Linked DNA regions of Homo sapiens. The protein of the gene in region 1 purifies or fractionates together with the protein of each later gene. This does not show direct contact. Each region holds a gene or a part of one and is shown in the gene's direction. Other genes may lie near its edges.

The links. Proteins that work in one complex are often made in the same cells at the same time.
Region 2: the proteins of CRIP1 (region 1) and ATOX1 fractionate together in Homo sapiens (co-fractionation; one large-scale study listed by BioGRID). This does not show direct contact.

Annotation. Positions count from the first base shown.
Region 1 is NC_000014.9:105,485,386-105,489,136, forward strand, and holds CRIP1 (cysteine-rich protein 1), read left to right. Parts: upstream 1-1,500; 5' UTR 1,501-1,587; intron 1,588-1,813; 5' UTR 1,814-1,874; coding exon 1,875-1,914; intron 1,915-2,780; coding exon 2,781-2,875; intron 2,876-2,945; coding exon 2,946-3,003; intron 3,004-3,085; coding exon 3,086-3,126; 3' UTR 3,127-3,131; intron 3,132-3,277; 3' UTR 3,278-3,562; downstream 3,563-3,751. UniProt on the Homo sapiens protein: Seems to have a role in zinc absorption and may function as an intracellular zinc transport protein.
Region 2 is NC_000005.10:151,745,477-151,748,782, reverse strand, and holds part of ATOX1 (copper transport protein ATOX1), read left to right. Parts: intron 1-2,333; coding exon 2,334-2,458; 3' UTR 2,459-2,504; intron 2,505-3,306. UniProt on the Homo sapiens protein: Binds and deliver cytosolic copper to the copper ATPase proteins. May be important in cellular antioxidant defense.

The DNA of each region.
Region 1 (3,751 bases):
CACGATGCCCCACACTCAGTGGAGATGGCAGGTGGGCCCAGACCTCAGAGTGGGTTTCAAGGCTCATGGGCTGGAGAGTGGGGGTTCCAAGTTTGCAGGACAGGAGCGCACCCCTACTCTGGAAACCTTATCTCTGAGGTCTCAGAATGGGGGATGAGGAGGGCTCCAATGGGCCCCTGTGGAATGTCCTATCAGACCCCAGGACTTAGCCCCAGTCGGGGGACAGAACTGTGGCCTTAGAGGGGCGCCAGGAGGAGGGCAAGCAGGATGTGGCCTTGGGCTGGGTGTGCTGGTGTGGGGCTCTCTGGAGTGTGGCCTCTGTGCCAGACGCCTGTGCCTTGGCCGTCCTACAGCCCTGCTGCCCCTGCCCTCTCCCCAAGCTGGGGACTGGTGGCAGACAGGGCAGGGCAGGCGGCTTCTCTTCCTCTAAGTGCAGGCCTCGAGGTGCCGACAGGGGTGCGGTAGGATTCAGGGAAAGTGAGGTTGGGATCACAGGTGCAGTTAGGGCTCAGGGCCCGACAGCGGTAGGCCAGCGGCTCCTGGGGCCCAGGAGGATGGTCTCCAGCGCCCCCAGCGGGGACAGGGCCAGCACAGGCCCAGTGGAGATCGAGGGGAGATAAGGACGCTGGTTAACATGGCTGACAGGAGGGATGGTGGGTGGGGAGGAAGGGCAGCACCGCCCTTGTGCTGTGGGAGCTCCCAGGGAGCTCCATGCAGCATGGAGGTGAAGGGCCTGCAGAGAGAGGGCTCCCCTGCTCAGTGACAGGAGAGGGGGCTGACAGTGACCTGGGCTCCCTTCCTGAGGCTGGCCAGTCAGCTAGAGGGCTGACCCCAAAGCCCGAGGCCAGCGCAGCCCCCTTGGCCCTCCTGAATCTGGGGGGCGGGTGAGGCGGGACAGACTCCGCCTGGCACCGGGACCATCCTCCGCCTCAACTTTGCAGCGTACTTGGACCGCTCTGGCCGCCCTGGGCGCTACCCGCAGAGATAAGGGCCCCTCCCTGCGCCCGGTCCGGGCATCTCCGAGCCGGCCTGGGGGTGGCTGAACTCTCTTTTGCCGGCCGAAACCCCAGCCCCCGCAGCCCCCGCAGCCGATCGGTCCTCAAGCTACAGCTCCCCTCTCTGGGAGTCCCCGCTTTTGAATTCCCCGGGGATGTTCCCGCTGCGGTCCGATGGACCTCCCAGAGCAGCGGAGGTCAGGGGAGCTAGCAGAGGCGGGGACGTCCCTTGGGAGTGAGGGGACTGACAGGGGCGGCCTCGTAACCCTGCGTGGGATGGAAGGTCAGAGTGGGTTCCTCGGTGGGGGGCAACAGCGGGGGCTCTCCGGCAATTGTCCCCGACCCTCCGTCCTGGGGAGGGCAGGATCAGCGCGCGGGCTGCTTTGCATCTCTTTGCATTTTAGTGATGTTTGGTCCAGTCCTGGCCCGGGCAGATCTGGGGTTCGGGCGGGTGCCGGTGGGGTAGGGCTGGGGGTGGGAGCGGCGTTTCCTGCTGCGGGTGAGCCTTTTGCCTCGGAACTGGACCCGGGAGACATCACAGCGCTGGGCTAGGGGCGCGGCTTGAACTCGCCTAAAGAGCTGCGCCCTCTCAGTAAGTCCCCATGGCCCCCTGCCCCCCCGCGCTCCGTCCTCAGTCAGGCCCGGGTCCTGCCTGAAGGCGGGGGTGGACCAGATGATCTTTCTTGGGCCCTGGGCCTAGATTCGAGGTCCCCAGGGTCCAAGTCCTGGGTTCAGAGGGCGGGGCGCGAGGGGCGGGGTCTCCAAGGGGCGGGGTCCCGGGGTCCCTGAAAGGCGCGGACCAGGCCGGATCCACCCAGTCTCGCGCCTGCAGCCCGTGCCGCCCCAGCCGCTGCCGCCTGCACCGGACCCGGAGCCGTCATGCCCAAGTGTCCCAAGTGCAACAAGGAGGTGTACTTCGGTGAGCGCGCCCACACCGGCCCCGCGAGGAGGCGCCGCCGACGGGGCGACGAGGCTGGGGACCGCTCAGGAGGACCGGGGGCGCTGGGTCCCTGGGGCGGCGCCCCAGCCTGAAAACGCCTCAGCCTGGCCCGCCGCCTGCCCCGGGATGAGGGTGGAGGCCCCTGCGTCCGAGGGCCCTGGCGATCTCTGCCTGCTAGTGGTCTTGCTGTGCTCGGCGGGCTACCTCTGGCTCTGAGCCTCCCCGTCTCTGGGTCCTACGGTCTCTGCCGTTTCCTCTCAGGCGCGCCCTGAGTGGGGGACCCGCAGGGCTGGAAGGAACGCGGGGCTGGGGCCGCGCCCCCCAGCGCTAAGTGGAAACAGACGCGGAAACCGACGCCCGGGGCGCGATCCCGGGCGCCCGCCTCCCTGCCCCGCGCCCGCGCGCCCCGAGGGGAGGGAGGAAGTGGGAAGTCACCCCTGTCCCCGCCGAGAAGGGCTGTCGCAGGCTCCACCCTTGCCACCGCAGAGGCCCGGGGCTGAAAGCAGGCAGCCAGGCCCAGGCCCTGCTGACCTAAGCCGCGACCCCTGACCCTCGGCCTCGCCCTCTAGCCCCACCCAGCCTTCAGGAGCAAGATTCCCGGCCGCACCCGAAAGTGCCCCGGGGACCAGCGACCCCGCGCTTTGTTTAGTTGTATTGGCTCTGGGGATTGGAGATGTTCCCCTCATGGAGGGTGCTGAGACCTTAGGGTGGGCTGCCAGGCTGGGCGGATGCGGGCTAAGTGCACAGGGCCTTGGGCAGAGCTGGCTGCAAGAGGCGGGTACGCCAGTGGTGGGTAGGCGCCGCGTCCTGCAGCGTCTCACCGGGGCCTGTCTGTGCCTCTGCAGCCGAGAGGGTGACCTCTCTGGGCAAGGACTGGCATCGGCCCTGCCTGAAGTGCGAGAAATGTGGGAAGACGCTGACCTCTGGGGGCCACGCTGAGGTAGGTGGGACCCACCCTGGTGGCAGGGGCCAGGGGTGATGGCACCCCCTCACGGCCCTTCTCTTTGCAGCACGAAGGCAAACCCTACTGCAACCACCCCTGCTACGCAGCCATGTTTGGGCCTAAAGGTATGCTCCCGTCATCCCCACCCCACCCCACCCCACAGCCTCCTCCACCCCAGCCTGTTGACTTTTTCCACCTTCTCTGCAGGCTTTGGGCGGGGCGGAGCCGAGAGCCACACTTTCAAGTAAACCAGGTAGGTAGGACCCCACCCCCTATCCTGCCTCCTGGTTCCACCCTCGGGATGGGGATGCCCCCTCCCAGGGAGGCCTGACCACTCGTGGGCCCCAAAGGAGGCCGTGGACGCTGCACTCACGTCTGTGCCTGTCTCTCTCTGCACAGGTGGTGGAGACCCCATCCTTGGCTGCTTGCAGGGCCACTGTCCAGGCAAATGCCAGGCCTTGTCCCCAGATGCCCAGGGCTCCCTTGTTGCCCCTAATGCTCTCAGTAAACCTGAACACTTGGAAAACCTGTGTGTGTACATGCGCGTGTGTGCTGGGGAGTGCCAAGGGAGCTGCAGTGGGGTCCTGGCAGCAGGCTCTGCCACCGGCGCCTGCTCTTCTGCTGCCCATTGCCCTCCCCAGGGGGCCGTTCCAGGGTCTCATAGGCGAGGGCTCCCTGTGCAGGGTGAGTCCAGGCCACCCTAGACAGCCCGCACCCAGCCCTGGCACTCTGAGTCCGCCTCGACAACTCCCAGATCCTCAGAAGTGCCTCTGAGCCCTCCTGGCCTTCTGGGAGTGGGGAAGGGGGGCTTTGCAGGCCACCAGCCAAAGGCTCAGCAGGCCGAGAGGCCTGGGGGCGGGCGAGGCTGGCCTC
Region 2 (3,306 bases), on another chromosome or scaffold:
TTCAAGTGATTCTCCTGCCCCAGCCTCCCGAGAAGCTGGGATTACAGGCACATGCCACACACTGAGCTAATTTTTGTATTTTTAGTAGAGATGGGGTTTCACCACGTTAGCCAGGCTGGTCTTGAACTTCTGACCTCAAGTGATCCACTCGCCTCAGCCTCCCAAAGTGCTGGGATTACAGACATGAGCCACCACGCCTGGCCAACCATATGATTTTTAAGGCCCCTTGCTGGAAGATCTGCCTTTAAGCTTCGGCAGGTTTCTGCCCATCTTTTCCTACTGTCCCTGCTTGGGTGGCCTCTTGAGAAGGGTCAGGAGGGTTTTTTGAGTTGCTTATGGCCCTAAAAGAACAGTGGTAGGGCTGAGGAATCACAGACTGATGGCATCCTTGAGCTGGAAAGGCCACAGGAGCTGGCCAGCCCTGACTCCTTCATGTACAGATGAGGTAGCTGAGGCCTGTGAGAAGCAGGACCCTCCTCCCACCGACTCCCTGCCCATGGTCACCCAGCAAGTCAATGGTGAGGCCAGGCCTAGAACCTATCAAGAGTTTTCCTTTCTTTTTGCACTCTTTTGTCAGAGTAAAACTCTGGGTCCTCCCATGTGCTGCTGGGGAGCTGTAAATTGGCATAGCCATTTAGGAGGGCGATTTTGCAATGTCTATTAAACATTCAAAATGTGCCAAATATCTGTTGCCCCACAATTTCCATTCTGTGAATTCATGGTATAACAATATTTTTATAAGTGTTTTAAGACAAGTTCAAATATGTTTACTATAACATTGTGATAGTGGTGAAAAATTAGAAGCATCCTCAATGACCTTTAACAGTGGATTAATTAAGTGGATGTGTGGTACGTCCACACTGTGGAAGATTGTAGCTTTTAAAAAAAGAATAGGGCCGGGCACTGTGGCTCACGCCTATAGTCCCAACACTTTGGGAGGCCAATGCAGGTGGATCACCTGAGATCAGGAATTCAAGACCAACCTGGCCAACATGGCGAAACCCCATCTCTACTAAAAATACAAAAATTAGCTCAGTGTGGTGGCTCATGCCTGTAATCCCAGCCACTCGGGAGGCTGGCTGAGGCAGAAGAATCGCTTGAACCCGGGAGTCAGGCTACAATGAGCTGAGATTGTGCCACTGCACTCCAGCCTGGGTGACACAGCGAGACTCTGTGTCAAAAAAAAAAAAAAAGAATGGACCGGGTGCAGTGGCTCACACCTGTAGTCCCAGCACTTTGGGAAGCCAAGGCAGGCGGATCGCTTGAGCCTAGAAGTTCAAGACCAGCCTGGGCAATATGCGAAACCCTGTCTCTACATAAAATACAAAACTTAACCAGGCATAGTGGCATGTGCCTGTAGTCACAACAACTTGGGAGGCTGAGAAGGGAGGATCACCTGAGCCCAGGTATTCAAGGATACAGTGATTTGTGATTGTGCCACTGCACTCCAGCCTGTATAACACAGTGAGACCCTGTCTCTAAATAAATAAATAAATAAAAATGAATAAATAAAGAGAAAAGTAAAATATTAGCAAGACCTGTTTATATAGTGTGATGCGATTTGGAGGAATTATTTTTCATTTGTCTATCTAGGACAAAGTCTAGATAGAAGCCAGACTGTTCACAGTGATCTCTAGGGGCAGGATCAGTAGGGGGCCTTACTGCTTCTACTTTTATTTAGAAATGTTTGCTTTTTTGAAAAAAAAAAAAAAAGTGTCTATATTACTTTTGCAATTAAAAAAAAAAGGTGGCTGGGCACGGTGGCTCATGCCTATACTCCCAGCACTTTGGGAGGCCAAGGCGGGCAGATCACTTGAGATTAGGAGTTTGAGACCAGCCTGGGCAACATGACAAAACCCTGTCTCTACTAAAAATACAAAAATTAACCAGGTGTGGTGGCATACGCCTGTAATCCCAGCTGCTCCAAAGGCTGAGGCATGACAATCACTTGAACCCAGGAGGTGGAGGTTGCAGTGAGCTGAGATCATGCCACTGCACTCCAGCCTGGGCAACAGAGTGCGTCTCTGTCTCAGAAAGCCCTAGTATAGAACAGAGATCAGCACATGGGCCAAATCCTGCTCACAGCCTGTTTTTGTATGTTCAGGAATAGAGTTATAAAAAAAATACACAGAATATACAACAGAGTCTATATGTGACCCACAATGCCTAAAACATTTGCTTTCTGGCCTGTTACAGAAGAAGTTTGCCGATCCCTGCTCTAGAGGAAAGGGCAAGGGTGGTTGTGAGTAGTAATTTAGAGCCTGAACTCTTTCTTGCTGTAACTGGGAGGGTCTGTGCTTCCTCTCCCCATACCCCATTTCCTCTTCCTGCAGGAGTTAAGTATGACATTGACCTGCCCAACAAGAAGGTCTGCATTGAATCTGAGCACAGCATGGACACTCTGCTTGCAACCCTGAAGAAAACAGGAAAGACTGTTTCCTACCTTGGCCTTGAGTAGCAGGGGCCTGGTCCCCACAGCCCACAGGATGGACCAAAGGGGGCAGGTGGGTAAGGCCCCAGCACTTGCTGAACAAACCTACAGCTCACACCTCTCATCAGAGCGAACACCTTGGCCTTTGAGAGCTTGAGTGGAGCGGGAGAGCCCTCTGGGTTCTTTTCAATCCACTGTCCACCTTCTTTGGAGTGGTTACAAATATTTTATTATTGTCTAATGCAAATCACAAGTTCAGGGAATTCTTACAGACCCTGTGAGTGGACAGAGCACTGTGTAATGTCTCCCAGAGTCCTCTTTCAGACTTGAGGGTTGCAGTTCATGGTTAGCAGGGTTTAAGTTTACAGTATGTGACCCTAAGCAGTGCACCTTTGACTTCTTTATTTGTTCATTGGTTTGAGACAGTGTTTCACTATATGGCCCAGGCTGGAGGGTAGTAACTCTTCATAGGTGTGATCATAGTGCACTATAGCCTTTAACTCCTGGGCTCAAGTGATGCTCCTGCCTCAGCCTTCTAAGTAACTGGAACTATAGGCACCTATCACCACACATGGCTCTGGCTTTGATAAACTGACTATCTCATCAGAGTTGACACTTGTGCCTTGGGCCTTGTTCTCCTGTGCCCTGACCAAGTGAGTTAATTCAGACTGTGCCGCTCTCTCTACTTGAAACTGTTGTCAGCTTCCTGAGCATGCCCTCTGTCCAGACTGGTACAAAAACAATAGCATGTTTGAGCTAGATGTTCCCTTCACTTTTATGTAATCCAGTGATGCAGTAAGGGGCACTGTGCCAGCACTCTTCGCTCTGGAACCAGGCAGACCTTACTCATTGATCCAGCCACAGTCTCAGCAGGG